Regions from separate parts of the Homo sapiens genome. Here region 2 is linked to region 1. Evidence: fine-mapped expression QTL. A gene starts in region 1. The other region holds a variant in brackets. All regions are shown on one strand. Distances are from middle to middle.

Region 1 (14,476 bases):
TGGCCAAACTCATGCGTGGTCCTGTCAGCCCCAGCAGGCCCCAGGCCCCACCTGAAGGCCGCCTGTCCTGGCCAGTTCTCACCTTTGGGGGGCCTCCTGGGTTTCAGGCCCCTTCCCTTGTCTTCCCGGCCTCCTGTCCTCTGGCCCTGGTCCTCCTCGGTGACTGCTGCCCCCTCTTGAGCTTGAGGGTCCCTGCCGGCCTGCCAGGGCCTCAGCTTCAAGGCCTCGGGCTTCCCTGCCCCAGCCCTCATGGCAGCTGTGGCCTGGGGCTGAGCCCACTCAGCGACCAGGCCCTTGTTGTGACCCTGCTCCTGCTCCAAGGTCACTGGGGGTGACTCCTTCCTCAGGGCCAGCCCTGGCCTGGGAAGCGCTTTCCAGCCAGTGGAGGGGGACTGGGTGGGGGTTCCTTGAGCTCCCTGCTTCGGGGTGGGCTGATCCCGCAACTGGTCCAGCTTCCCAGCCTCAGGCTTGTCTGGGTGGCCGATGCCAGGGATGGGCTGCAGCTGACCTGCGGAAGGAGCCAGTGTGGGCTGGGGGCCTTGCCTCCTTTCCCCAAGGGGCTGTCAGCTGCTAGAAAGCCCATCGCCCTTCCTCTTTACCCAGGCCTCCCCCCGCCCCGCCTTTCCCTTACCTCCTGAGGAGCACTGGCGAGAGAACAGAGTGTCCCCACCGTCAGCAGCAGGCCACCAGCCCCTGGGGCCAGTAACCCAGAGTACCTCTCAGAACTTACACAGCTCCTCACTGCTGGGGAGGGGGGTGGGTGGCGCTCTAGGCCCATTAGGGCTAAGGGGCTGGGCCTATAGGTTAGGCCCAGGGGTTGGACCGGTGGTTGGGCCCAGGGAGCTTCAGCAGCCCTGGGTAGAAAGCCTTGGGCTGCTCAAGGGACCTTGGGTCCCACCTCCCCTCACTTCCCCAGTGTGTCCCAAGGGTGGGGGGTAGGGCGTTTCCCCAGCATCCCCTTTGCCCCATACCCATTAGTGAGCAAGGACTTCACACGTGCTTCCTAGGGACAGCTTCTGGGGAGATGAAGGGGTCGCTGCGACCTGGCACAATTTGCTTTTAGAAGTGAAAGCCCCAGTGTCTGCTACAGGGGGTTTGTTGGGGATTAGGCAAGCCCAGGGGCCACCTCAAGGGGTCTGTGAGCCACTTTGGAGGAATGTTGATAACCCCAATGCCTCCTGTCCTCTATGGAGCAGCTCCTCCTTAACCAGGGCCAACCATGGGGGGCACCGCTCTGTCTGCAGGGGTGAGGGGCAGACCCACCCACCTGGCCCCTCCCGCCCTACCCCCAAGCCTGGGGCAGGGCCACCAAGTGTGGCTACAACCACTGGCCTATAAGACAAAGGCCACACTCATAGCCCATGTCCTCGGGCCCCTCAAGCCCCTCTCTGCCAGCAACCCCACTTCACCCCCAAGCCCTATACTCCCAGCCACCTGAGATTCTTCCTGTCTCAGGAGGCACTGGGGCAGCCAGAGCAACTCCTCCCCAGCACACCCCAGCCCGCTCTCAGCCTCACTGTAGCGCCCGCTCCTAGGAAGGCCTCTTCCCTCCCTCGCCCCTAGAGTCTGCGCACACCCCTCGCCCTCCAGGGAGGGCTCTCTCAGGGCCATGGGCCCTTTGCAGCCCTGCCTGAGTACCCAAAGTGGGCCTGAGGTGGACAGCCTGCGGCAGTCTTCTTCCTGCTGGTGCCAGCTACTCACCGTCGGGGGCCCCTGGTGGGCTGGGCAGCAGCTGCAGGGTAGCCAAGCCCATGGGGGTTGGTGGGGCCCCTCCTGAGCAGCTCCCCGCCCACAGTGCCAGGATGGGGAGCAGCACACTCCTCTTGGCTGCCATGGAGGGAAGGAGAGCTGGGAGAGGCACGGTGGTGGCCACGGCAGGACGATGGCGGACGGCACAAGTTGGTCTTGCTCCCTGAGCTCCTGGCCCTGGCTGCGGCACTTGGAGTCTTCCCTGCCCACCCCAGCCCTTCCCTGGGAAGGCCCCCCTTCTGTCGAGCAAACGCCTCCCCCGACCTTGCCCCCAACTCCCCACAACGTGCACTGCTCCCACCTGAAGAGAAAGACAGATTGCCCTTTCCTCAGACCGGACGGTCCTGCCCTTTTGCTGTGAGGCCCGCATTGATTCTCCGCTGGCTCTGGCCCAGTGGCCTCCATGAATGGGGCTTCTGTCTCACACGTGGCAGGCCTGAGAGGCCCACCACAGAGCGGGTCGGCCACCGCAGGCTGCTGGGCCCTGCATCCATGGCTGCGAAAGGAGAGGGGGTGGGTGCCAAGGCCGTGGGCTTCTGCCGTGGGCAGCACTGTGGAGGCCTCCGGGTTCCAGAGGAAATAGAATCTGTGGGCACAGTGCAGGCGGCGAGGGTATGCCTCCCGTGCCTGAGACCCCAGTGCTGCTTGGGCATGGGTGTGCCTCGGGCTGGGCTGGCTCCTGGTTCCTCTGCTTGCCCTCCAGGTCTCTACCTTCTCCTCTGTAAAATGGGGTAGGGGGCAGAGTTGACGTTCTGTGGCTGTCCCGACCCCCTACATAGGAGCATGGGTGTTCCAGGCACTGCCTGGGTGAAGCCATGTCACAGGTCCCCCCCAGACTTCTTGGCCAACAGTCTGGGATCTCTGATGTGCCTAGGCTGCACGCATCCTTTTGGTCAGAGGGGCACCTGTGGGTCAGGATGACATGAGGTGGAAAATAGGCTGGGCTCGATGAGGGGACTGCTGGGTGGGGCCAGAGGGGCGTGTGGTGGAGTGAGGGGCAAATAAGGGGGTGTCTGGCTCCAGTTCCTAGAGCCCGCCACCCTCAGAGGGCTGCCGGAAGTCCCTGCTCCAACTGGGGTGTCCCTGCAGCCCCAACCCCGCGTTCTGCTGTGGGAGCCAGGGTTTGTGGGAGCAGGCAGGCGGGGGCTGGCAGAGAGGACTGATCTCACCGCTGGCTCGGCTCTTCAGGGCCAGTATTGAGGAAGCTTTTCCTACAGCCCTGTCCAGCGTTGACTTAGGTTTGGAAGCGATCTTAAGAAATGAGTTAATTGTGGGCAAGGCTTGGGTGGAGGGGAGAAGGGAAGCAGTGGAGGAGGGGCAGGGGCCGGCAAGGGCCATCAGGCAGGAGTCTCCATCCTGGGGCAATGAGGCAATGTGTGAGATCCAGAGGGGTGCAGGGCTGGTCAAGGTGGGGAGGAGGCCTGGCAACTGGGTCTTCACTGGGCTCCTTGAGGAGCTGCCGCTCCAGCTAACAGTCCCGTAGGAGCCACATGGGGTCCTCTGCTATATCCAGGGTACCCTCGCCATCCAGGGCTCTGGTTTCTGACCTGAATTTGGACCCTGCCACGTACAGACCAGAAACAGGGACCATCTAGGGAGTCAGCAAATGCCTCTGGAGTCAGGGATGAGGCCACCATCTCCTTGTGCGTCCTGTGGGTGACACAGGATGGCTGTGGGCCAGTGTCCTGCCTGGGGGCAGCTGCCGAAGCTGGGACAGGGTAGCACTGGGGCACGGCAGACTTGAAGTATGCTGCCAAGACTAAGTGAAGCTTGCCCCAGGATCCTGCAAGACAGAGCACAGTCGACCCCCCATTTTACAGAGAAGGAACAGAGAAGGAGTGGGGCTCACCCAAGTCTCGATACCAGAGGCCAGTCCTCCTGCCTCCTGGTCCAGGCATCGCCTGAGAAACGGGGTAGGTCCCTGCCTGAGCTGAGCCTAGCACCTGGGGTCGGGAGACTGGACGGTGATGGGAACCCCGGCTCCGCCCCTCCCCCTGCCTGGGGATGGATTCTGGAATCCTGGCCCCCTACCCATTTCCCCTGTTTGCGCCGCTCCCCAGGCGCTGACTAAACATCCTGCCATCTGGTTCCCATTAGCTGGGCTGGGGGTGGGGGAAGCCTGCTCCCAGGTTTCTCTGGCACAGCCAGCCTGGAGGAGGGAGGGACTCCGCTCCTACCCACCTAGGCAGGAAGGGGTGAGGCCTGGGGTGCTCTCAGTTCCCAGCTCCCATGGAGGCCTGGCCTCGCTGCCCTTCCCCTGGTCGGGAGCCTGGTGGCTGACCTGGGTGGGCCCCTGGGGAGTGGTACTCCTGCTGCCCACTCTGTCCAGTCCCAGGGCACCCGGCCATTGTGGGGACCTTGAAGGAACCCCCATGGAGCAGAGCCAGCCTTCAGGGGCTCAGCAGAGCCAGAGGCTCCCGGCAAGTTTCTGCCTTGCCCTCCCCCCCGCCCAAGAGCTCACTGACGGACTTGTGCTGAGACAGGCAGGCCCCAAGCCAACAGTAATCCCGAGCCCGGTGTCTGGAGCAGAGGGTGGGAGGGCTGTTGGGATTTTCCAGGAACCAGGGATGCAGCCCGAGGGTTGCTGGAAAGAGCTTTGGGCTCCCAGTTCTGCCATGGACGGACTGGCCATGTGACATCAGGAACAAGCTTCCCTCCCTCCTCAGTGCCCCAGTCTTCTCATTTCAGTATGGTGGAAACAGGCTCCTTAGAAAGTTCTAGAATCTGAGAGCCAGAAGGCGCCTAGAGAAGCTGGATTACATGATCAAGGTCGCTTCTAGTTGTACAATCCCAGGATTCTAAGGTCAAGGAAGGGACTCCTGTCCCTTGTCCTCCTCCCCCTTCCCTTCCATGTAGCCCACTCTTCACACACTCATGCACACACATACCCTCTACAAGCTGGGACTCAGATTGGTAGCCTGGAGGATGCCAAAGCAATGCTGTTTGTCCCTCAAGGCTGTCATCAACGAGGACTGGACAGTGGATTCTTTGCTCACTGACAGGGGATCAGGTGAGGACCGTGAGAAAGTGACATTTGGGCAGAGGCATGAGTGAAGAGGCCATGGCCATGCAAAAAGCCACAGAAAGAGCCCTCCGAAAAAGAGGGATGGCCAGTGCAGAGGCCCCAGGTGAGAAAGGGTTGGGCCCAATTTGAGCATTGGCAATGACAGCAATGTGGTGGAGCAGGCTGAGTGAGCCGTGGGAAGGTGTCTGTGGCGGTGGGCTGGCTTGCCTTTGTCCTTGAAAGAATCAGGGAGCCACCTTGGACTGCTAAGCAGAGGAGTCACAGGATCCGGCCCCCCTCAGGCTGTGGGGTGGAGCACGAGCAGATGTACTGGGGGCATAAGGGTAGGAGGTGGGAGCCACCGTGTGGCAGCTGAGCCCGCCAGGGGCCAGGTGATAGTGGCTGGCCAAGGGTGGAGGCGGGGTTGCGAGGAGGAGCGGGTGGGGTCAGGAGCATTTGGGCCTCAGGGTCAAGGTCTGGGGGCTGTTCCTGCTCTCCTGCTCTCCTGCTCTCTGCAGGAGCACCTACTACGTGCCTGTCCTTTTCCCAGGGCCCAGGGCAGCCAGAGACACAGCCTTGGGGTGACCCCCAGAGAAAAGGAACAGGCCCATTCTTGAGCTTTCCACATGTTGTCTGAGTGAAAACGACAGCAGTGTGTGGCACATGGGTGGCATTCTCTGGGGACATGCGCCTGCAGCTATCTTATATGTCAGTAACAATATGGGGCCTTTCCCCCTTAAAGCTTGGAGAAGAAAAAAGCCCCATTTTCCATGCCCTCTTCCTGTTGCCCGCAACTCTTCCCTAGAGGAAACCCATCTTATTTTAATGCTACTGAAACCTCAGAGGATCTGGTCCCAATTAAATGACTTTTCTTGCAGACGCTTTGGTGAGCACTAAATGCTTGAGACCTGGTGATCCTGAGCGAGAGAGCCTGCTGCGGGGTGGGGGTGGAGAAGAAAAAGGAGGGAAGGGGAACACAGGACCCCAAATGGGACAAGGGTGGCTGCGGATGGGGTGGAGGGTGCCAGTGGAGGGGGACTGCAGAGGGTGGCACGCAGCAGGGACCAGCCCATAGGGAGCAGGGCCGTGGTCGGGATGGGGGCAGAATAGGGGCCAGTTTCCCACCCTCTTTGCCCGTGTGAAATTCGAGTTCATTCCCGCCCATAGCGTGGCTTCGCTGGACTCCGTGTGAAAGCGGCCCCGCCCCATCCCCTCCGGTGGGCTTCGAGGACCTCGGCAGGGAACGGAGGTTGGGCAGAAGCTGGAGCTCAGGCCCGGCCGGGGAGCTCGGGCAAAGCAAGAAGGCGAGGCGGGCGCCCCCTCCCCCGGCCGGCCCTCCGAGCGGGCACGTTCGTGTTCCCGTCCTGGCGCCCTCGCTTCCCGCTCCAGACGCATGTGACTCAGCCCCGCCGGCCTTGCCAAGCCGTCTAGACCCGAGCGTCTCCCCGCGGAGGGGGCGATCCCGCCCGCCGCCGTTTCCTTTGCCGCCGCCTGCGCGGCTGCGCCCCGCGCACGTGCAGCAGCGCTCGCCCCCGCCCGCCACCTCCCGCGAGCCGCGTGCACGCGCAGCCACTCGCCCATCCCGCGCCAGCGCCCGCGCCCCCGCCCCCGCCCCCGCCCCCGCCCCCGCCTCTCCCGTTGCGTCCACTGCAAACAGGCAGTTCGAGGGCAGAAGCGGGAAACCCAAAGGTCCCCAGGGCCCCAGACCATCCCTCCCATTTTTGGGGCCCGGGGCAGGAGGACAAAGATGGACCGCTGAGCCACTGCCTCCCTGCCAGCCAGACTCTGTCCACACCCCCTACAACTGCCTCTGGCCTCAGAGCAAGGGTCGCCCTAGGTCGCAGGCCCTGCCCTCTTGCAGGAGCCTGTGGCCTGGGGGACAGGGCGGGGTAGGTGATGGTAGCACCTCCAGGCCCACTGGAGGCGATGGTGATGGCGATGGTGGTACCATGCTGACTGCGCTGCGGAATGTGCTCTTGCAGGAGCTGGTGGCCTGGGGGCAGGATGGGGCAGGTGAGGGCCCCTCAACTGCAGGAGGTGAGGGTGGGGCCCTAAAGCAGGAGGCCCAGCATAGGGACTAGAAGTGACAGGAAGAGGAAGCCAAGGTCCCAAGGCAGCCTCTCCATTCTCATATGCCAGTAGACTCCAAAGATGAACACGGAGGCCTAGGAGGAGAACGTTGTAGAGTTGAGTCTTCAGGCAGCTCCCAGGTTGACAGTGTGGTCCCTCCAGAGTTAGGGCCACAGGCCGCAGGGCTCCCCCAAGCTTACAGCCACTTCCTTGTCTCATTTGCAAGGCCCCCACCCCTGCTTTCGTGTTCTCCATCCCTTCCCCCATCTGCAAGGATAGGGCTGGGTTTCGGGTGGGCTCCTGGCTGGTGCAGATGGCGTGGGCTGCCCGCAAGACCTGGGTACTGAGCCTGCATGCCAGGATGCAGGGTGGATGGGTGACCAACAGCTCAGCCTGGCAGCTTAGCAGCAGAGAGGTCCCAGGAAGACAGGGAGGAGATGAGGAGAAGGAAGAGGGAGAGGAGGACAGGACGGGGAGGGAGGGGAGGGGAGGCAGAGGCAGCCCCCTGGCTTTGCCTTGCCTGCGGAGAGCCTCACACTCAGACCGTCCTGAGCCTGACCTCATTACTCTGTCACATTTCTCCCTCAAACCCAATGCCAGGGCTCACCACTTGCTTCTCGCATGGGTGTGATCAGCTTCTCATCTTAGACCTGAACTCTCCCCAAAACACACACACGCACACACACGCACACACTTGCCTTGTCTTCAACAGCTTGCATTTGGTACTCTCCACCCTTACTGAGGAACTTTAGTGGCCAGGGGTGGGGGGTGATGGAGGACACTTCAGTCCCTCAAAGGCTCCTCCCCAGGTTCCCTGGTTCAGGGCCGGGAGTCGAAGTGGCCCCGTGGAGCAAGGCCTTCTAGGGCTTTAGCTCTGACAGCATTCTAGGGCCTAGGCGCCCCCAGGTGGGGTGGCTCCCCCTCAGGTCTAACTCCAGCCCCTGCCAGAAGCAGACCCGCCTCTGCAGAGAGGAAAGCCCTTGGACTTCAGCTTCCTTTGATTCGCGGTGTCTTTGGGGGATTGGGGGGTCCCTGGTTGATTCCCGCTGCACCGTGGGGTCTGCCCTTAAGGTCATATGAAGAGCAGGGCCCGGATGCTCTGAGGACTTTTTCAATACCCTCCACAGGTCAGGGAGGCTGCCCACTTGGTGAGCTCAACTGTTTGGCCATATATCTCTGGGCCCACCACACAAACTGAGAGGTCTCGAATGCCACCAGCACCCGCCAGCCCATCTCTGGCACAGCGGGGCCAGTGCCGTGAACCAGTCTCATTTTCCAACGTGTTTTCCAAGCACTGACACGGCTGAGGCCCTGCTGGGACGCATGGCCAACTTTCCTCCATGACCAGGACCCCCCAGCTTCCCCGCCACATCCACAGCTTCCCCCCAACATCCCTCCTCCAGGTCAATGGGTCCTTCAGCCACATTTTTGGCTCCTGACCCACCCAGGCCTCCCTCAGAGAACCTGGGGTCTCTGGGTTGGAATGTCCCTTAGAGATGTGCCCCCTCCCTCCCCCATGGTAGGACTCAACCCTCCACATCCCCGCCCACCCACCTCCCTGGGCTTGTAGACCTTCTAGGACCGGGAGCTCCCTTCCTCTCCTGGCAGCCAGCTGGTGTTCAGACAGTGATTTCTGGGAGGAGTGCTTTCTTGGACTGAGCTTGAGTCCACATTTCCAGAAGCTTCTACCTCTGGGCCCCTTCTTTCCCCCTTCCTGAGAGGCCCAGCAGCCTCTCTGTTCCCTCCCCAGCCTCCAGCTTTTCCGGAGGAAGATGCCTGGGAGGTGCTATGATTCTGGGGGCGGGTGGTGGGTGGCAGGTGGTGGGTGGTGGGTGGTGGGTGGTGGGGTGGCGTGGGCAGGGAAGCTGCAGCCTGCTGCTGGGTCTTCAGCGACCATCTCCAGGGGCTGAGGGCTGGCCAACAGGTTCTCCATGAGGGGGATGGCCTCCATAACCTCTCAAGATGATCTTCGCCTCTCAAGGCCCTGCCAGTTCCTCAGGGTCCCATAGACTGAACTGCTGAGGTTGGGGAGGCCTGTTGAGCACACTGGCTCCGTGGAGCTGGGTGGAGGAGGGAGATTTTCTTCCAGAGTACACAGGAGCTGGTTTCTTCCCGGTCCTCAGGAGCAGAGAATATGGGGAGGGTTGGGGGAGGCTGCCACACTGCCGTGGTTTCTTCCGCCAAATTCCCCAGTCCTAGGAAAGATCCACAGAAAAACCCACAAGAATTTGAATGTCTGAGCTGGGGCTGTGATTGAGATGAAATTTTCTAAAAAGAAAGAAAGAAAAACAAAAACAAAAAAGAGGGAAAAAAACGCTTAAAAAAAAATCCCAAAGCCTTTGACAGCCCTCAGCTACCAGAAGGGCCTGAGGCAGCAGCCACGTGGAAGGGTAGAGAGCAACCTTGAGGCACTTCGCTGGGCCTGTGTCGGGGCCTCCCAGGCTGAGGTCCCTTCCTGTGACCCCCGGACTCCTGCCCGCTCCCTCCTCCCAGGACGGAGTGAAGTCCCCTCCTGTCACTTGGATGACTGCAGTTGCCTCCCAGCAGGTCCCTGGGTCTCCCTGACTATAGACTTGCCCCCTGATCCCACCCTCCAGGAGATGGCAGGGTAGGGCACAGAGGAGGGCACAGTGGCAGCTGCCTGCTGCTGTCTCCTGGCTACTGGGCACAAGCCACCCTCCAACTCCTTCCTGCCTTGCCCAATCAGCAGGTCCCTGGGTAAGGGGCATTCAGTGAACTGGGGGCTTTGCAGGTCTGGGGGAGGAGCGACTGACATATTTCATTGCAGACGCATTGAGTTTGAGGGTCCTGAGGGATGTAGAAAAATTTGTTAAGTAGACAGGATAGGAAGGAGCCACAGGTAGCCCCAGGAGCCGTGAGGGGAGCAGGGCCCAGCATGTATTACAATAGTGAGCATTTACGTGGTTCTTCGCATGCGCCGGGCACTGTTCTAGGGATTCCACAGGAATTATTACCGCCTGCCATCCTCATTAGCAACCCAGTGGGTAAGGTGCTCTCATTAGCTCCATTAGGTGAGGGCAAAGAGGCACAGAGAGGTTAGGTAACTGGTTCAAAGGCACACAGCTGGTGAGTGACAAGAAATTTCCTTCTAACTACAGCGTGAGCATGGTGAAGAGAAGACGGAGCCCCGCGCTGGGAGAGGAACGCTTCAGTCCGAGTTCCATTCTGCACCCAAGGCTCCCCTTGGTCCTCCTGGGAACCAGGGTGCCCCTTAGTGGTGGTGGCCCAGGAGAACCCGACCAAGGCAGGAGCGCCCCCTCCTGGAAGAGCCTCGCTTCAACGCATCATCATTCCCGGCCGGCAGCAGGGGCGACGCCAGCAAGGCCTGCGACTCAGAGCCAGCTTGGCCCGTTCGCCCCGCCCCTTCCCGGTGTCCGCCCCGCCCCTTTCCCGGTGTCCGCCCCGCCTCCTTCCCGGTGTCCGCCCCGCCCCCTTCCCTGTGTCCGCCCCGCCCCCTTCCCTGTGTCCGCCCTGCCCGCTTCACTGTGGTCCTGCCTCTGGGTGGTGCCGGGGCGGGGGGTGGGAGCCCGGGGCCCGCGCAGGCGGAGATGTCGCCCAATGGGAAGGGTCGGTCGGGAAGGGGGTGGGCGCAGGCGGGTGGGCGGGAAGAACGCTGGAGGTTGATTGGCGGTCTTGCCGGCCAGTGAAGCCAGGGCATGGGCGGGGCGCGGCTCGGAGCGCGAAACATGGCGGGGCAGGACGCTGGCTGCGGCCGTGGCGGCGACGACTACTCAGAGGACGAGGGCGACAGCAGCGTGTCCAGGGCGGCTGTGGAGGTGTTCGGGAAGCTGAAGGTGCTGTTGGCCCAGAAAGCCACTCCAGGGCGGGGGACCGGGGAGGGCCCCGCCCGAGGCCCGGGAGGGCTTGCTGCGGAAGTCCGCGGCGCCACGCGGCCACCGTCGCCGGTTCCGGCTGCGCCCTGTTCCCTTGCAGCAGGGGGTGCTTGTGGATCATTCATCTTTGCCCTTTGGTGTGCCCCAGGCCTTCGTTCTTGCTGTCTCCACGGCCCGTGCCTGGTAGTTGGGGCCAGCACCGCCTGTGGAACTGCAGTACCCGCGCTGGGCGCTCGGAGCAAGTGCAGACACAGAGGACCCAGGCCTGGCCTTAGGGATCTTGCGGGGTCTGGGGGGACAGATGGGCAGAGCCTCGTGCCACTCTGTCAAGTCAGCGAGACTAGGGCTTGGTGTCAGTTGGTGTCAGATGCCAGGGGTGATAGCCTCCAGAAGCCCTCTACAGCCCCACAGGACAGAGCCCTCACTGCAGCAGTGAGGAAAGCTGGCCCACGAGGTTAGGGAGCTGTCCCAGGTCCCCTCGGCCCGCTCGCTCCTCCCCCCAGACACTCCCCCATCCTGTCCGCGACTGGCTCAGTGGTCCCTCTCCCTTTCCCTCTCCCCTTTCCCTCAGTCCCGAAACCTAGGACTCTCTCTTAAGTCTTAGTCTCAGGCGTTGCTCCTAGGTCCTGCTGCCACAAGAGCCCAGAGTGGGAGTACTTGAAAGAGGTGGGGTCTGCATGCCGCGGGAGATGTGGGGTTAAGAATGGGGGGACTTGAACTCTTGGCAAGATGGCAGGACGCGGGTAAAGGAAAGGGTCCTGGGAGCTTGCAGATGTACACTGAGGACTGGGCGCGGCGGCCCACGCCTGTAATCCCACCACTTTGGGAGGCTGAGGTGGGCAGATACCTGAGGTCAGGAGTTTGACACCAGCCTGGCCAACATGGTGAAACTCCGTCTCTATTAAAAATACAAAAATTGTCCGGGCGTGGTGGCGCATGCCTGTAATCCCCCAGCTACCCTGGGAGCTGAGGCAGGAGAATTGCTGGAACCCAGGAGGTGGAGGCTGCAGTGAGCCGAGATCATGCCACTGCACTCCATCCAGGCTGGGCGACAGAGTGAGACTCCGTCTCAAAAATAAATAAATAAATAAAATGAAATGATGTACACTGGGACTTTCAGTGAATGTTGCTTTCCTTTTCCTTGCTTAGGACCTAAACTGCCCCTTCCTCGAGGGTCTGTATATCACAGAGCCAAAGACAATTCAGGAACTGCTGTGCAGCCCCTCAGAGTACCGCTTGGAGATCCTAGAGTGGATGTGTACCCGGTAATGCATCAGTTTCTTCCTCTTCCCACCTGGGGTGTGCATGGGCGCCAGCCAGCCCCACCTGGGGAAGATGGGGTTTGTGGTTACTGTGAGTAGCTGTCTTCCCAGAGGGCTCCACCCCCTAGCCTGGACCCTCGTGAGAACAGCTGTGTAGGTAAGGAGTACTGGTGACAGGCATGATCAAACTTGGGGCAAAGTGGCCCCTGGCGGTGCTGGGCTAGTCCAGCCACCCCTTTGCTGCAGTGCTGAACTTGCCCTCAGCGTTTGCCTTGCCTTATGAGTTTGGAGGTTCAGGACTGGCAGGCACCTGAGAAATGCTCCATTCCAGTCCTTTCCTTCTCAGACCCGGAAGCCAAGGGTCAGGCTGGAGGCATGAACAGTCTCTGGTCTCCCAGTGGAGGAGTGACAGGCAGGGCCAGGGCGTGGGCTCCTGGCTGGGTCTCAGCTGGCCAAGTGGTCCTCATGCAGTGTCACCTCTTGTCAGCTTCTGTGCCGTGACCCGTTTCCCAGTCCTCTGGTGCCTTTGGGCCAGGGTGTAGCATGGTGTGTGCCTGGCACCCTATGAAGCCCATGGTGACAGGGTGACTTCCTGAGTGATGGTGGAGGAAATGATCCAGAGTGTCCCATTCCCAGGGCAGACATCCTTCCCCTGGTGACGTAGTCCCTGAGCTGAGGGTCTGTCTCACTGCCTCACAGCTGTGAGTGGAGAAGGCTTTCCCCGCCTCCCACAGAGCACAGGCTCCTGTGGGATTGGGTGTGTGCCCAGGCCATGCTCAGGAACAGCTGTAGTCTGTTGGTACAGGAGCCTCTCGTGAGTCCAGGCCCGGGCCTCCCCCTCCTCAGCCTGCGGCCTGCCTACCCTTGCTGCTTGAGGAAGGGGCCTGGGCGGGAGCCTGGCAGTAGAGCAGTGGGGAGCCAACCTGCATCCAGCCGGTCTGGCCCGCCAGGACCAGAGACATCAGCAGGACGCCCAGCTGGATACAGGCCCCCAGAGGAAGGAGGAGGCGTTTTTGTGTTTGAGCCCTTGCTGTTCCAGAGGCGTCTCCTGCCTCTGCCTTCTAGGCCCTTCCTCAGGCCTCTCCCCAGGGCTCAGCACAGCAGCTCCTCGCTTCATAACCTTTTGCTCTTGCTCACATTGTTCCCCCTCCTGGAAATGGCCTTCTAGTCTCTGCATGTCGTACGTCCTCCTGTACAGCCCGCAAAGACCCAACTCACACGTCCTGTCTCCTTTTAAAATGTTTCCTGTTCCCAGGGCAGAATGTATTCCGCTTCCCTCTGGATGCCCACAGCCTTTGAGCACACCCTGCCCCTGCTGGAGCCCTCAACCTGTGGGTGCACTCTTGGCCTGCTGTCATTTCCGGCTCTTTAGTATGGGAGCCGCAGCATGGTGTGGCCGTGCAGTCGGGGGGTTCTCCAGGCTGCACCTGTGTGCCATTCCACGCGCTGCAGACGTGACTGGGTGTCCTCAGGAGCTGGGTATTTAGTGGGTACAAGTCCTGGGGTTCAGCAGAAATGATGCACAGCACTGCAGTCTGAGTTGGGTGCTGTGGATGTTGGCAGGGAGGAGGTGGCATTTGATCTGGGATGGGGACGGTAACAGCGGGGTGCTCGTTTGGACAGGAGCAGGGAGTTGAGGTGTGGGAGAGAGAGCTGGGCAGCAGCAGCTGGAATGGCAGCTCAGGGCAGCTCCCTCAGGGCCTTGCATGCTGTGCCAAGGCCTTTGAGCTTTATGTTCTGGGCAGGGCAGGCGTGGAACCTGGGGAGCGACGTGCTGAGATTGGCATTTTGGTAAGGTGACTCAGGGTGCTCTGTGGCAGATGGATTTGGAGGGCAATGGCTGCAGGCAGGGAGACCAATACCCCAGGGAAAGACAGAAGGAGCCCTGCGCTGAGTGGCAGATGGCTTGTCTGGCAGCCACTACTGGCCCTGGAGGGACCAGCCCCTGGCCTGGGAACCTGGGAGGCTGGGAGGTGAGGCAGGACTGGAGATGGCTGGGTGGAGTGTGAGGGTCTTGAGCGAGCTCCCAGGAGGAGGCTCTTGTGGGAGGGGGCGCAGATTTGCCTGACTCAGGTGGAAGCTGGGGGCACTTGGGGAACTGGGGTCATCTGGCCAGAGAGGGACGGGTAGGAGGCCAAAGCCACGCCCCTCAGATGCTTCTACAGGTTGAGTGTCCCATATCCAAAATGTCTGGGGGCCAGAAGTGTTTCAGATTTCGATTTCTTCGGATTTTGGAATATATGCATTATACTGGTCGAGTGTCCCTAATCTGAAAATCCGAAATCTCAAATGCTCCAGTGAGCATCTCCTTTGAGCGTCATATCGGCGATCAGAAAGTTTAGGATTTTGGAGCATTTCAGGTTTTCAGATTAGGGATATTCAACCTGTAGTACTTCTGTAAATACCAGAAACCGAATCCTTTGAAAAAGCTGCCAGGGAGCATACGATGACGTTGTCTGATTTCAGGTTGGCGAGAATTCCTTAGGCCTTTTGAGGGTCCTACAGGAGAATCAGATGGATGGGAGTTTTCCTGTGAA
Region 2 (16,014 bases), 21 kb before region 1:
TGGGAGAGAACAGGAAGGGCAGGGTGGAAGCAGGAGAGCAAGATGGAGTGGGGGAGGGAGGAGACTGCCCTGCCCCTCCTTGCCGATGCCCCTGCCAAAGCCGCTACCTCCCAGGGAGAGTGAGTCAGGGCTGGGACACCCCGCCAGAGCCCTGGCAAGCTCCAGGGTGGGCAGTCCACCTGGACAGGTAGGGTTGGGGTGGTCCGGCTGGGCCTACGGGAGGCTGTGGGGAGGGGCTGGGGAAGGCCGAGGGGACAGAGGACCATCTGACCATGGCCAGCTTGGAGCCCCCCAGGACCCACGCATTGGCCTGGAGGAGGACTCTACAGGGACTCCTGCCCCGGGGCAAGGGGTCTCCCCAGGAGCTGGGACTTCCCTGCAGGCCCTCCTGTTAGGGAATCGGGCCCTCCACCAGGGCAGGGGGCACAGGCACAGGGCAGGCCAGTCACGGCAAGACTGGCCATCGGGGTCTCAGGCGGGTTCCCGGGACCAGCTGTGGGGCAACGAGGGCTCTGGAGGCAGGCTGCCTGATACAGTAGGATGTCTGGGGGGTCTCCAAGAGACTGAGAAAGGGGCAAGGGGAAGAGGTTCCCTCAGAGCGGGGAGGGAGGCTGAGGGCTGGAAGGCCCATACACCCGGGCCCCGTGACAGAGGCAGAAGGACAAGGTTTGGCTGGTTTTCCATGGCTCATGGCTGTGCCCAAGCAGTGGGCAGGCTGGAGGGGCGGGGGCCGGGCAGGCTTCCCGGCACATCCCTCATTTCCCCTCAAAGAACTGGCACAAAACTGAGACCTCTCCCGAGGAAGGGGCAGGCTCCGTGTCTGAGCCCACAGGAGGCAGCAAGGGGCCCATGAAGTCAGAGGGAGCCAGGGGAGCCTGGGGGGAAGGATAGGATCCCCTGGAGCTGGCCTGATGAGTATCCCCATTTTATGGACACAAAAGCTAAGGCCGAGAGAGAGGCTCTGATTTCTCCCAAGTCACTCAGCCTGACTTGGAACTCAGCTTTGGCGCCTCCAGGCCCCGCCTGAGCTCTCAGCTGTGCTCCTCAGCCACAGGGCTCCAGCCATGTCTCTGGGCCTGTGAGAGCCTGAATGCCCAAGACTGGGGGTGGCAGTTTGGGAGGTCCTGGCAGTATAGGCTCAGCTGTCCTCCCAAAGCCTGGCCCCTGCCTTCTCCCCACCACCTCACACCAAGCCCCTCCCTCCTGCCAGAACATGCACACACACACACGTACACACATACACACACAAACACACACACAGATGCACACATACACGCTCACATACACACACGTGCACACGCACACACCTATACAAAACACATATGTACACACGTGCACACACACATGCACACACCTATACAAAACACATATGTACACACATCCACATGCATCCACATACATGCACACATCCACACATATACGTGCACACACCTATACACACATGTACACACATATACATGCACACACCTAGACACTCACACATGCATACCCATGTATACACATTCACATACACATATGATACACATATACACACATATATACACAGATGCACACACACTCATGCACACATCTATACACATACATGCACATGTACATCCACATGCGCACATGCATGCATGTATACACACATGCACACATGCACACATACACACATGCACACACATGCACACACACGCACACATACACATTTATACACACGTACACACACACACACATGCATACATGCACACATACATACATACATACCTGCACATATACACCTGTATACACGCATACACATATGTACACACATACATGCACACATCTATACACACATGCATACACACATTCACATATACATATGTATACATATACACATACATACACATATATCCACACATAGATAAGGCAGGCGGGGACCCCAGCCCAGGAAGCAGGAATACCCCATAGTCAGATCCTGTGAGACCCACAGCAAGTCCCTCCAGTCCTCAACTCTCCACCACCACAACTGAGGCCTCTGGGCCTCAGTTTCCCTTCATTGGCCTCTCTGGGTGTGTCTTCAGGGACTTCAGGGAGGGTTTCAAGCCCCACCAAAGTGTGCCCTGAGCTCCCTGGATACCATCTCTTTAGAGCAAAGGACAGGGGCGGCAATGGCATAAGCCCCAGGTTTGGCGACCGCAGGTGTGAGTGAGGGAGGAGGCTGGGCTTCCTGGAGCCTCCGCCACCACCCCAATAGGGCCCTCCTTGTCTGCCCCTCTGAAAGCTAGCGCAGTCCTCTGCACTGGATTGCTCGAGGTCACAGCCAAACAAGATGCGTTGGCAGCCTCTGAGAACATGGAGGGTCCGTGCCAGGCATTCAGGCCAGGCCAAGGGCGGCGGGAGCAGGGCTTGAGGTCTGGCGGGCCCTGGGAGCTCGCCTGCAGATGGTGTGGCTCACAGCTGCCAAGTGGCAGACGCCGGATGCTGTCTCCGCAGCCTCAGCCCTGGGCGTCTGCCCCCCTGAGCAACCCGACCTGAACTCTGACACATGTGCCACCTTCCACGCAGCCCTGCGGGGTCCCCGGGACTGTGTCCTTCCTCCCCTCCCCTCTGGCCTCCAAAGCCTTTTGGGCCCAGTTTCAACCAGCAGCCTGGTGCTTGTGCCCCCGCTGACACCCGGCCTGCCCCCTGCCACTCTCCCAGGCCCCAGTCCACCAGTCCCTCCCCGCCGATGGCTCCAGCCTGTACTTGGGCATCAACCAGAGAGGGGATGTGTACCCTCCCTGGCCTTGCCAAAGCCCGGCGTGTGCGTTCATCTGTGGGAGTGGCTGCCTGAGGGGCTGGGGGCTGGAGTGGGGAGGGGTGGACCTTGTGCCACATTCCAAGCCCCTGCCGTTGCCGGAGCATGCCCTTCAGGCAGCCACGCTTGGGCGTCTGCTCCCCTTGCAGCCACGTGTGGAGGGGCTGGGAAACCCCGGCTCATCTGCTGCTCAAATCCTTTCCAGAGGTTTTCTGGCAGGGTGGCGACAAGGGTGGAGTTCTCCCTTGATGCGCCCAGCCACCTCCCACCTCTCTGTGCCAGCCCTTTGCAGCCTGTGGCGCCCATGTCAAGGTCCAGCCTGTCCCCACAGTCGGCGGAGTGCGGGACTCAGCCCTTCCCACTGTGCGCTCCTGGTCCTCTGCACACGGACTACTGCTGCCCCCTCCCACTCTCCGAAGAGATCCGGGGCCTCCTGCTAGAGTCTCCAAGGAAAAGGGAGGATGCTGTCACCTCTCAGAGGCAGAGCAGGGGACTCATGTGATTTCTTTACTTAGCATCCTGCCGTCCCCCGTTGACTATAAGAAGGAAGCAATGCTCTTAGAACTTGATGAAGGGGTAAACTGAGGCTCAGGAAGTTGGCCCCAAACTCTTGCCCAAGGCCACACGGTGAGGAAACAGCAGAGCTGGGGCTGCACACACTGTCTGTCTGTCCGTCTGTGTCCTTGCCCCCATGTCTGGACCCACCCTCTCCCAATGCACACAGTGCCACAGGCCCCAAAGCTGACACGCTTCACACTCTCGGGGCTGTGCAGGGGGCTCCCCTGGAAGCATGGCCCTTCTGAGGACCATCAGTAGCTCCCTATGGCCCACAGATCCAGAAGCCCCTCCTCAGCCCCAACACAGCCAGCAGGGCAGCCCCCGCCCAGCCTCTCACCTCTGCCTCTGTCTGCAGGGAGTCTCCTGGAAAAGCCATCGTCTCCCCAGGCGAGCACTTCAGGGCCCCAGGGAAGGTGTTCCCGGCCTGCCCCCCAGAGCCTGGGGCCCTGCCTCCCTCCCTCCCTGGTACAGGCCCACCAAGGCCAGGAGGGGAGGGGAAGGTTTCCTGCAGCCCCTCCCTGCCGCAACCCGCTCTCTGCCGGGGGCTCAGGCTGGGCTGGGATTAGCCTCCTTCAGCCAGCCAGGGTGGCCCACAGCCTGCTTAGCTTCAGGCTCCTGGGACTGCTGGGCTCCCATGGGTGTGTGTCTCTTTGCATGAGGGCAGCCTCCAAGAACCATGGGATGGCAGTCAAGGCCAAGCAGGGACTCAGACTTCCAGAGGATAGAAGTCACACTGGCTTCCCAGACTTCCCCTGCCTCCAGGGACAGGGCTGCCTTCTAATCTTCTGGCCACCCAGGAGTCTGCCCGCCATGCTCCCCTTGGCCCATCTGAACACCTCAGGGACCAAACAGGACTGGGATGGCCAGCAGAGGCAAGTTCAAGAGGCCCACAGAGTCCGTTGGGCCCCTGGTCCTCCAGCTTATCTCAGGCCAGTGTTTAAGTGGAGCTCAGGCTTAAGATGCAGTGGACCAGGAGAGTTCCATGCAAGAAGGCTGGCTAGAGCCCCAGGCCCCTAAGCCTCAGAGATGAGCCTCATGGGAATGGGCAGCACCTTCACCAGGCCTGCCAGGGAGCCGGGACCTGACCCTGCCCCTTGGGCTGGCTGGGATCAGAGCTGCGCAGGTGGGAAGCTGGGAGTGGGAGGGTTCTGCAGTCCTCGGAAGAGCCAAGGCTGGTGGCCCCTCCATAGCCACCCCAGAGGCTGCTCTGACCTAGAGCCATGACGGGGCAGGGGAAGAAGGCAAACAGCGAAACAGCGAAGGGGGCAGCTGGGATGGTTCCCAGGAGTCTAGAGTCCCAGAAGGGGCTTCTGGCTGTGGGATTCAAGTGGTGGAGGGGATCTTCTGGCCTGGAAGGGGACCTGGGGAAGGAGGAATGAAGCACAGGCCCCACCCCTCCAGAGGAGGTGGCCCCAGGCCTTCCCCAGGGAACCCTGGGAAGCTGGTTCTTTCTGGAAGGCTGCAGAAGGGCCTGGCCATGGGTCCTGGAGGCCACTTAGGCTAGGCGGGCCTCAGGCCAGGAGGACTGAGCCATGCGCCCTCCCCACAGCGCAGCCCCTCTGCACACACCCCACAGCTGGTCCCTCTAAGACTTGCGGAAAGGGCTCTGAGTGGCCGAGCTGTGGCCCCTGATCTCCCAACCCAGCATCTGAGCAGAAGAGGACAGGAGCTGGGGCACTGATCGCCCCAGGCCCGGTCGGCAGGGTGGGGGCCAGGGCCGGCAGGATCCCGGGTTGCGCTGCCTTCCGAGGGAGCCGGTGCCCACCCAGCGGCCTGCAGCCCAAGGCAGGGTGCCCTGGGAAAGCCACCGCCACCCCCAGCCCCTCGGTGTGAGCAAGACCCCCAGCTGGTGGGTCCCCACCCACCAGTGGGGCTCCCAGGCCTGTCGGGGGCTCGGTGGTGGGCCTGGATGCTAGGGGGGCAACGTGCGGCAGGGACCAAGCTCTCCGGCCCACAGATGAGTGGGAGGGGGTCGTGGTGGGCATGGGAAGACATTTCCGACAAGCAGGGGTGTTGGGGGGTGAGCAAGGCAGGGGAGGGGCCCTGGCAGGTGGGGTGCCAGGGACCCCAGGGCTGGGGCTAGGCCTGTGGGTGGGGCGTGTGCTGGGGATTCTGTGGGCCGAGGACATGTGACTCCCGGGCAGGCTGGAGATGCTGGGGGGTGGGGGGTGGGGGGTGGGCCCGGGAAGCACAGGAGACGGCAGGTGGGGAGGTCCTCATCCCACCTCTATACGGGGTGGCAAGGACTCAGAAGCCCTTGCTGAAGGCTCTGAGTGCTAACTGTCAAGTGTGAACTCATTACAAACCCCTCCTCTGGGGACTTGGCGCTGTCACTGGAAGGGACACGCTATAGCTTTGTTTGAGTGACTCTGGAATGTTGCTAAAGACAGGAAACTCATTCTTGCCTTGGAAACACCCCCCTTCCTTTCCCAGACTCCCCATCTATGCGTTGGTAGGGTTAATGCCCACTGCCGTACGGGTCCTTGGGGCTTGAAGGTGGGCCAGGGAGGCCAGGGCTGCCACCCACAGCTGGCCAGCTTGCCATGGGAGCCCTCTCTGCTCCCTGGCTCGCAACCTGCTCCCACCGCCCAGCCCTGGTGGCTTGGAGGCAGCCCTGCATCTTCCTTTCAATATACCCACACGGGCTTGCCCTCAAAGGCTCACCATGCTGGCCCACAGTGGCCATACATGGGCATGCTCCGCACCAAGACATCCATGCTCATACACCAGCTCTCCTGGGGTGCGGCTGGCACCGGCGGCTGGGTGTCACCAGGAGGTGCTCACCCGCACCCCTGGGCGCTGGTCCCCGGGAGCCTTTCTGGCACGGGGGCAGGGGGGCTGAGCATCTCCAGCTTGTCTCAGTTCCAATTAGTTGCTATAGGGCAGAGAGCTGGCAGGCCAGGGAGGGGCGAGGGCCCAGAAACAGGACCCCCTGAGGATGGGACCTGAGCAGTCTGGCAGCCAGGACAGCAGGAGAGAGGCCTGCCCACCAAGACAGACCACTGGAGACTGATGTACCCTGTGCCCTGCAGATCCCTGGGCCCCCTGCTCTGCTCAGCAGGCGCTCAGGCACCCAGCCCCGCCCATGGAGCAGTGAGGGGGCGCTCCCCTCCGTGGGCCTTCCAGGGCACTCTCTCGCTCCCTCTCCTGGGTCCCTTGGCAGGCCCCTCTGGGACCCCAAGCCAGGTCCGCCCTGGGGAGCATGGCACAGTTGCCTGATTTTCTCTCCTTCCCCTCCACACCCATTCTGAGTCCCAGTCCAAGGGGGTCCTGGAAACAGACAGGGCTGAGCCACCCAGGCACCCCCAGTCAGGGCCCTTGCAGCCAGGGCTCCCAGGACCCAGACTTCTCACAGAGGATGTAGAGGCAGAGCATTAACCTGGGGGTGAGCGAGCGAGGAACATCTGGGCAGGGTGCCTGGGGTGTGCCTGGGAAACTAAGTCTTTCAGCCCATGCCAAGGACTGGCCTCAGGCAGTGCAGCGGAGGACTGCTCCTGGGTGCTGAGCTCGGTGGGCGCTGGGCGGTCCTCCCCGATCCGACCCAACCCGGGCCAGGCGCCAAGCCCTGGAGCAAGGAGGCGCCTGGGCAGAGCGAGGCTGAGGGAGTGGAGCATGCGCCTGGGACTTGCAATGATGAAACAGGGCCATTGGCAAAGCTGGGGTACCAGTCACCCAGCCACGCTCTAGGGTGGTAGCCAAGAAGACGGACCCCGAG[C/T]GGGAGGCAGAGAGACAAGAGGTGGATGAAGCAGAGCAAGGTCAGAAGGGAGAGGGAGAGGAAGGGGTGAGGGAAAGGTGCCTGGAGGGCGGCGAGACGAGGCAGAAGCCTGACAGGGACCAAGGGGGCCGCAGGGTGGCGATGAAGGGGCGTGGATCAGCAGCCTACAGAGAGCACCGGGGAAATCTGTGGACACCCTCGCGGCACTGGGGACAGCAGGACCAGGGCTTGGGACAGCGGAGGCAGCAGAGCCAGGGGCATCTCTGGGTTGCTGAGGAGGCAGCTTGAAGCCAGCCCTACCTGGAGAGGGGAGGCGCCAGGCGCAGGCTGACTAGTTGGCGGGCTGGGGTGGTGGGCCGTCCGCACGTCTATCTGTCCGGTGTGTCCGGCGGACCGAAAGCAGCTACTCACTCCTGGGCAGTTTGTGGAGAGAGGGAGACAGAGGCGGCGGGCGGGAGGCTAAAGGCTGGGCAGGCGGGCCGACGGGGAGGGGACAGCGGGGAGAGGGCGGGGAGGGAGGAAAGGAGGGAGGGGGCTGGTGGGGCGGAGAGGGCGGGCGAGCAGGAGGGGGCAGGCTTCCCGGCCCCCCTGGCAGCTTCAAAGGGAGCAATTTTCTTGTAGACGGCTGGACTAGCTGAGCCCCCGCCCCCTCGCCCCCACCACCTCCCCCCCCCTCCCCCGCCTGGGGCAGACAGCAAAGGAACGGACACACTCGCACTCACTCAAACAAGGACCCAGAGAGTCAAACTTTCCACTGCCCAGATGGGGACACTGAGGTGCTGGCTGGCATCTCGCCAGGCAGAGGAAAGAGAGATGGAAGAAAGACGAGGGGGAGGCGGCCTTGGGCTGCTAGGCCCATGAGTGGCCCCTGGAATTTGGTCCTGAGCCTGCCAGGAACCTGCTTGGGCCTAAGCAAGGAGGTGGTTTCTCCAGGATCAGAGAGGTAGCTGTTGTGGATTTCTGGAAGGACTTCATGTAGGCTCCTGGCGCCCTGTGCCCTCCCTTCCACTCCAGACTTTCTTCCCTTAAAAAGAGGGCCCGATCCGGCTGGTGGTGGCAGGACGGGGCAGGGGGCTCCCCAGCTTGCCTGCCCTGAACTGATTCAGAGACGAAGGATCCAGCGAGTCAGTCTTCTTGCTCAATCCCTGCAGGTCCCCTCGGACATGAGAACCACTCTGTGGGTGGCCACTTCCTCTGGGCTCAGCCCTGTGCTGGTCACTTACGGGGGCTAACCGGGTTACCCCACCAAGACTCAGCCGCTTCCTGAGGGCCCAAATGAGTCCAGTTCCTCCAGTGGCTAGAGCCCAGGTCCTTAGTACGACACTGCCCCCCTGTCCCGTAGTGTCCCCTTCTTCCCTCAGCAAGAGCAGCTCCTGAGACACAGGGGTAAGAGTTTAGATGGAGTGAGAAACAGATCTGCAATAGAACTGGGGGCCAAGAGTGCGGAAGACCAAAAGAGAAAATTGCATATTGAGAGAAAAAGCTCGAAGGGGCAGAGAGGGAGAGAGGGGTGGCTAGAGAGAGGCGGCATCCAATGGAGAGAGGACAACGTCGAGGGCTGAGGGTCTTCAACCCCTGGCAGTGCCATCACTCAACCGGGGGGTGGGGTCTGGGAGGTCCCAGGCCAGGGAGGATGCTCCCAGGGGAGCTCTACCTGGGGGCATGGCAGGGCACAGACCCCCTTCCTGTTCACCAGCGGCAGCCCAGGGCCTGGCTAGGACCTGGGACGCATGGCACCTTGACCAAACTGTGGTACCTGCCTGCAAGAAGCTTCTAGACTGGGCCAGGGAGAAGAGAGACGTGGGAAACCAGGGGCCAGGCTGGTAACCCTGGTTCTCTCTTGATTTCATGGTTGGAATGAGGAGATTGGAGACCACATATGCCCTTTCCAGACAAAGGAGATGGCTTGTCTTTCGGCAGGTTTGTGTGTTTTACCTTTTGCCCAGCCTCAGCGTCCGACTCTTGGCAGCCTGGTCTCATCTCTGTCCCACCCTCTTTCCCTCCCCCACTGCCAACTCATTCGTGGAGAAATATGTCGGTAGAGAGCGGGACAGGCAGCGAAGCCTGACTAGCAGTCTGGGTGGAGAGAGAAGCATTTGGAAACATTCCGCTCAGTGACAGCAGCCAGTCGCAAAAGGCCGCAGAGCCTCTGGTTCCATTCATTTGAAATGTCCACACTAGGCTCATCTGTGGGGACAGAAAGCGGATTTGTGGGCAGTGGGTGCTAGAGGGGTGGTACCTAAAGGTATGGGTTTTCTTTTTGAGGTGATGAAAATGTTCTACAATCGACTGAGTGATGGTTGCACAGTTCTGTGAATAGACCATATAAAAGCCCTTGCCTTGTACGTGCTCAATGCGCAAATCGTGTGGTAAGCACAGCCACTCTCAGTAAAGCCGTTTCAGAAAAAAGGAGAAACCCACTCAAGGCATGCCTGCTGCCCGAGGTGCTGGTACCCAGTACCTTCCTGCACTGCTTGGGGACTGAGAACCCAGGAGCTGTCACTCAGGGCCTCAGCCTCCAGGAGTCCCAGTGGGGGTGAAACAGCTCTGAATACCGTGGGGGCGCAGGGCCATGCACAGTGCCAGAGGCTCGGGAGGGCTACCTGGAGGAGGTGACCTGGAGCAGACCAGTAGGGAAGAGGGAAGTTGCCGGTGGAAGGAAGAGCACACGTGCGGGGGGGTGTGGGGAGACACAGGGGAGCCAGGCGGCGCTGCAGTCCGGCCCTGCACCGACCTCACCCTCAGGTCTCAGCCAGGCATGTTCCTGGATGGGGGCTTGGAAGTGGCGATGAGGCGACACCCTGCTTGGGGGAGACACATTATGCATGCACCTTGCAGCTCTTACCTGAAGTTGGGGGCTGCTTCTGGGGGCAATACTCATATAAATACGGTCCTTGTACCTGGAAGGTTTTTGTATCTGTGGTTTGCAGTCTGCAATAAGCCATAACTGCACGCCCGGCCCGGGGCCCACCGAGTCACTCGGCCTGGCTAGGGCCCACTGAGTCACTCGGCCTGGCCCTCTAATTTGGGGGCCACTCCCAGACCAGACAGGCAGTACCTCAGTCCTAGGGCCTCCCCCTTCTGCTCCCCCTCCCACTCCCCCCTCCTCAGGCCTGGGCTCTCTCTGCAGCGCAGAAGGTACTTTGATCCCAGCTGAAGTGCTCTAGGAACAGTGCTTCCTTGCTAGCGAGCAGAGCTGGCGGGCGGGCAGCCTTCTGCCCTTCTGGCCTCTCAGGGCTGGGAGGAGGCAGGGGGAAGCAGGGGGAAGGCAGGCACGGGGGGCGCAAGGCAGGAAGGAAGAGCAGGCATTTCCTGAGGCCCTCAGGGATCCTGGGGAGGAGGCGGACACACAGCTGTCTTAGCTCCCCAGGAACCCGCGGCAGACAGGGAGCAGGAGGTGGGGGAAGCAGAACCCGGCCCCTTCCAGCACGGCCTGTATGTGACCCTGGGATGCCACTGCACAGGCCCCCTAGGCCCTAGCTGGGATGCTTCCCCCAAAAGGCTGTAGAGGGCCAGAAGGTCCTGCTGGCACCAGCCTTGCCTTGCATCCCAGCCCGGGAGACCCCTTCTCCTGCCGGATGGAGCCGAGAGCTCAGCTCTCTCCACCTGACAAGGAGCCCAACCCCCTCAGCTGCGTGGGGAGGGCAGCCCTGGGCAGCCTGCTCAGGCTTCCCTGCAGGGAAAGCTGTCCTGCCCTGGCAGTTGCCCCTGCACAGGGCCCCAGGCCACACTGTGGTCTCCCTGCTCTGAGCCTAACTCTGGTCTAGGCCTCATCAGGCAGCTGCCACCCCAGCCTGCCTGGGACAGCGCCCAGGACGGCTGCTGGAAGGTAGCAGGTGGGGCGGCAGCCATGGGACGGAAGGATGGGACAAGGACATGTCTGAGGGAGGGAGAGGGCCACGGAAGAAGGGGGCTGGGAGGAGGGGAGGCAGGGCGCAGGGATCTAAGCCAGCTGCCATCTCCTTGGCCAGTGTGGGGAAGAGGACCTGGAGTCAGCTGCAGCCTGTCCCCCACAGCTGGCTTGCAGCTGTTTGTGCCCTGTCTTCAAAGCTACAGCAGGGAGGCCCAGGAGAGAAGCAGGGTGGGGGCGCCCAGAGGGCAGGCTGTGAGCTCTCTGGTCCCATTTGGGCATGAAATACTGGCGGGTGGTGTGAGTCCTAGAGGGCAGAGCCTAGGAGCCTGGGAGGTGGCCTCTTATGCAGGGGTCCCCTACAGAGGTGGGCTGCTTGTTCCATGATTCTCCAGGGTCTGGAAACAAGAACTGGGCCCCGGGCTCCCTCTGCCCTGCTCCCCAAGTGTGTCCAGTGGGCCCTCTTCTCTGTGGGTGGCTGCTTCTCGAACCCTTCTGCCTGGACACGAACCTCCCCACCCTTCCATTCTGATGGTGTGAACAGAAGGGCCCATGCCTGTCTTGGGGATGGGACGGAGAGACAGAGGGAGAGCCGACAGAGCTGGGACAGAGAGCTGCAGTGGGCGAGGCAGACAGGCAGCACTCCCACCCCCTGGACCATCAGCAAGACCCTCAAGAAGCAAGGAGGTGACAAGTGCTATGTGCCCGTACAAGACTGGGGGGCAGGGAGAGCTTCTAGAGGAGGAGGCAGTGCCCTGAGGCCGCCTGTCATTGGGGAGTAGCTCTTGCAGAGCCTCAGCTTCCAGGGCAAATTCCCATCCAGGGACCTGTCACTCACACATCGAGGTTACCTCTTGAGCAAGAGCGGCCCCAAGTTTATGGCCTTGAGTGGGCCTCACTCCGAGCCTGTGGGCTTCGTCCATTCCCAGTGTCGGCACCCTCGGGGGCAGACACCAGTGGGCAACCCCATCACCACTCAAGGGTCTCTGGATGACCTGCGGCCTCGAAGCGGCATGAAGCTCATGCTCAGCGGGGACCTCTGGGTTCAGGGGGTGGGGCGGTTATGGAGGAGGCTTGTGCCAACATGCCCTGGGGCAGCTGAGCTGGTGCTGAGTGAGCGGAGCCTCCACTCTCTGGAAGCTTCCCAGTGCTGGATGGCCGAGGTGTGGCTGGTGAAAGCTGGCACTCTCCATGCCAGGAGCTTTTTTTGACCTTCCTCTGAGGACATAATCACACAGCATCTCTCCCCTCCGGGCCACCAGGGCTGTAATTTCAGGGCCTGCGTGGGGGCTCCGGGGAGGCCTGGCCTGCGTCTAGCTATCTTTAGAGAGGCATGGTCTGGGGCGTGGCCAGAGGATGGAAGATGGGTTGCCTTGGAAGCCGAAGTCCGGGAGCCAGAGGCCAGGGGCACCCTAGGACCCCTGTGGTCTTCCCTCAGGGAGGCCAGAGGCCAGAGCCCAGGAGCAGCACCAGGAGGCTCTGGTGGGAGTGGGAAGGGGCTGGGCCCTGTCCCGAGCCCTGACTTCAGCTCGGAGCAATCTTTGGCCCAGATGCTCAGAAGATGGGGTGGGATAGCACCTGGCCTGAGGGCCAGACAGCTTAGCATCTCCCAGACTGTCCCCGTGTGGCCATGGTGGCAGCTATTATGGGGGTAGGGGGTGGAGGGTGGCACAGTAGGCGAGATGCTTGTGAACGGGGGTGTTAGGCTGGAGGGAGGGCTCAGAACAGAATGTGGCGAAGGCGAGGGGTGGGCCCGTGGGGGGCCAGTGAGGGGCAGTTGGAGAAGAATTTGGAAGCTGATGGGCAGTTTTCTGGGACTGCAGCTGGCAGAGGCGGAGCAGAGGTGCAAGGTCCCACCCAGGTCTCAGGCCGGAGACACAGGCCCAGCCCCAGGGAGGGCACGGCTCCTTGCCCCCATTCTCCACCCTTCTGAATTGTGAGCTGTCCCCACTGTCCTTACTCTCAGTCCCACCCCATCACCTCAGCATCCCCATCCCCATCTGAGGACTGATGAGTGCCTCCCTTCTGACCCTAGTCACACCTATCCTGTTGCCATCACTATTGCAATTGTCACTGCAATGTCCCCTCAGATGCCCAGCATTTTGGGGTCACCGATTGGCTGCACCCACTGCTGTACCCTCAGATGGAGCCAGCAGCCACCCCGAAGAGGAGGAGCACAGTAATCACAGAGAAGGTGGGAGTGAGTGGGTGTCGGAGCGTGGCCCGTGCTGAAGGAGGGGCAGGTGCAGGGCCACGGCTGGGCTGCCCTTGCTCTCGGGCTGGGGCTCTGTCTAGAGATTCCCTCGTGGTGCCAGCTAGACTCTGACCAGCCCTCCCACAGCCCCAAGAAGTGAAGTCCCCAGCCCTGAGCTCCTGGCCCTCTGGGGAATCCCCTGGGCTGGAAACAGCACCCTTGTCCCAGTCATGAGGGGGAAATAAAGGCCCAGTCCCTTTGCCCCATCTCGGAGTGCAGGTTGGCTGAGGCCTGGCCGGGCCTGTGGGGTCGGCTGCAGCCCAGCTTCTCCCTTGGCCAGGTGACGACCCCAAGAGCCCGCAGGTACATTTCCCAAGTGCGAGTCCCCTGCCTCCCCAGTTGGGAAGGTCACAGGAGGATTAGCCCCCGCCGAGGCTCTGAGAAGTGGAATTAACCACCTGTGGGTGGCCTGCCTGGCCCCTGCCCTCCTGCAGCTGAGGGGCCCCTCCCCTTCTCCTCCCCACCTGCCTCATCTGTCGGGCAGTGGTAAGAAGTGGGCAGGAGATGTCGGGGACTCACCCAGCCTGCACTTCCTGTGCCTCCCGGGCCTGACCTCTGGGACTGCGAGAAGGTGGGGGCTGCAGGGTGACCTGAGCAAGAGGCGCAGGGACCGGGGCGGCCAGGCAGGGAGGAGGGGTCGTGAGAGCTGGGAGAGTGGGGCCAGCGCCTCGTGGGCTGCTGACCTCTGACCCAGCCCAAACAGGAAGTGCCATATCTGAGGGGCCAGCTGGAGGAGAAGGAATGCCGGGACGAGTCCAAAGCAAACAGCCCACAGCTTCCCAGGCCTCTCCCGCCCCCGCCACAGTCTGGCGCTTTCTCCACTGAGAACTCAGGGGTGGGGGCAGGGGTAGGGGGAATCGGCCATGGAATGGGAGCAAGGCGAGACTCAGTTCCCAGGCCCCGGTCCTAGGCAGAGCTGATGGCGGGGCGAGGTCCTTGCAGCGGACACCCTGTGCCCTTCCTCCTCTGCTCCACCCACATCCAGCAGCCCGGAGGCAGAGGGGAAGGAGAGGGGCGGCCCCGCCAGGGTAGAGAAAGGCCGGGGAATGGGAAGGCCGTGCCCAGATCGAGATGGGGGTGCTGAGGTGATGGGGTGGGATAGCGAGGGCCAGAGGGGCATGCTGGAGGCTCACAAGTTAGAGGGACAGAGGACAGGGACGGAGCCATGCGCTCCTTGGGGCTGGGCTGTGTCTCTGCTGGGCCCTCTCCTGCGGCATCCTTCATGCCTGTCACCTGGCTGTCTCTGTGAGCCCCATCCCAGGGCAGTGGCTGTCGTGTTCCCTGCGGTTGTGACCCTTTGTCCCTATCCCTTCCTGGCACAGGGCCTGGTGGCCTAGAGAGCTGTGGAGGCTGTCCCAGGAAACCCATCCGGTTCCCAGGGGCCCCCTCACTCAGGCAGGCCAACGGGGCAATGGCCTCAGTGGCCTTCGAGGGCTCCGCAGACCCAGTGTCTCCACCAGCATATCTGGCCAGTCTGTCTTCAGGGCTCGGCAGGGCTGAGTTGTCACTTCCCAGGGACTCCTGGCACATGGGGAGGTCAACATGGAGGGCCGGCCTCGCTCAGGCAGACAGTCAGAAACTCTGGCCAGGGGTGGTCCTTGCCCAGTGCTCAGGGCGGGGCTTGGCTTTGCACAGACCACGTGCTCACTCCCCACCCTTCCCTGGCACCAGGTCAGATAGGGGCACAGCCTGGTCTCACAGCAAGCCAGCCATACATCTCTGGGCAAGTTACTCATCTGTGAGCTGAGGGTGGGGCCCTGGGGACCTCTCTTGCAGGTGGGTGTGCATGTTGGGGGCTGGGATGAGGGTTCTGGGGCCAGGAATGGGGGGGAGGTGTCAAGGGAGAGGCAAAGGGGCTTCCCGAGAGGTGCCACTGTGCGGTGGTCACCAGCCCCTGCCCCAGGCCTCAGTGCAGGTGTGGGTGGCTCTAGGACCAATGGCAGGTGCCCTGAACCTCCACACCCTCCTGCTCTGCCAGCCAAGCCCACCTCTTTGGGTCCAGGCCCAGGATAGGGATGAGACGGATCAGGTGCAGATGCTGCCCCAAGCAAGGGTGGGGAGCCTGGCCTCTTGATGGCTTGGGACCGAGCAAGGACTTCAGGACCCTGGTGAGGCAGGGTGGGGGTGGGGAGGCTCTCAGAGAAGCTGTGGGACCCAAGCCCTCTGAATCTCTTTGCTGACAGTCTCAGGTGCAGCCCAGGAACCGCACGGACATGGGAGAGCCAGGACATGCAGCGTAGCTCCTGGAGGGAGGGAGGCTGGCTGGTGAGCCTGCCCAAGCTGCATTTATTATGTTCAAGTACAAACCAGTGCCACCTTTCGCCCCTGGGCCATTTGCTAAGTGAAGCGGCCTCACCAGTCAATGGGAAGTGGGTGCACTGGAAGCAGTGGGGTCTTCTAGACCTTTCTCCCAGTGGTGCAAAGGCCAAGCACACCTCAGCCTGCCCCTCCACCCCCTCGAGAAGCAGAGTGTGTGCTGGAGGAAGGCGGCAGGCAGGACTAGGAGCCCTCCTCCCCCCGCCGCTGGGGCTGGAGGACCACGCTGTGATAGGCTCGGGTGCAGGAGAAGGCAGTGGGCGGGATGCGGCGCCGGTCAATGAGGTTGTTCTCCAGGTGTGTGGAGGTAAGGTTGGAGTCCTGAGCCACGCGCATGTCACAGATGGAATTCAAGGGCACTTGTCTGCAAGGGAGGGGTGGGGCAGAGCAGGGGAGAGAAGACCCCGGAAAGACGGGGTAGGCATCATTCAAGAAGAGACAGAGACCCCTGCCCTGAGAGAAGCAGTAAGACCGAGCCACAGAATCGGAACTGTGGAGGAGTGATGGCGGGCTTCAGAGACCACTGCGGCCTCCTGGCCCCCTCCCAACTCGAGGCTCAGTGC

Which allele goes with the higher level. Alleles are on the strand shown, and positions count from the first base shown. SD is a standard deviation of normalised expression in the study named.
With allele T in place of C in region 2, the expression in tibial artery of the gene that starts at base 10,512 in region 1 is lower (small effect, 0.38 SD a copy in GTEx).

Evidence for each region. PIP is the estimated chance that this variant, and not a neighbour inherited with it, causes the effect.
Region 2: its variant is fine-mapped to the expression of HAUS7 in tibial artery (GTEx, PIP above 0.99).

Annotation. Positions count from the first base shown.
Region 1 is chrX:153,466,612-153,481,087 of GRCh38, reverse strand. It overlaps HAUS7 (HAUS augmin like complex subunit 7), which reads left to right and starts at 10,512. Exons shown (of 10, transcript NM_001385482.1): 1 at 10,512-10,638; 2 at 11,827-11,942. The coding sequence starts at 10,531. It also overlaps the pseudogene ECMXP. RefSeq lists enhancers at 3,377-3,877, 3,878-4,378, 9,983-10,277, 10,791-10,890, 11,041-11,220 and 1 more and a silencer at 10,151-10,460.
Region 2 is chrX:153,486,431-153,502,444 of GRCh38, reverse strand. BGN (biglycan) reads right to left here and starts at 7,465. Exons shown (of 8, transcript NM_001711.6): 1 at 7,332-7,465. It also overlaps a transcript of HAUS7 not described here and the pseudogene ECMXP. RefSeq lists enhancers at 10,523-11,095, 13,212-14,026. The variant C/T (reference allele first, on the strand shown) is at 7,032.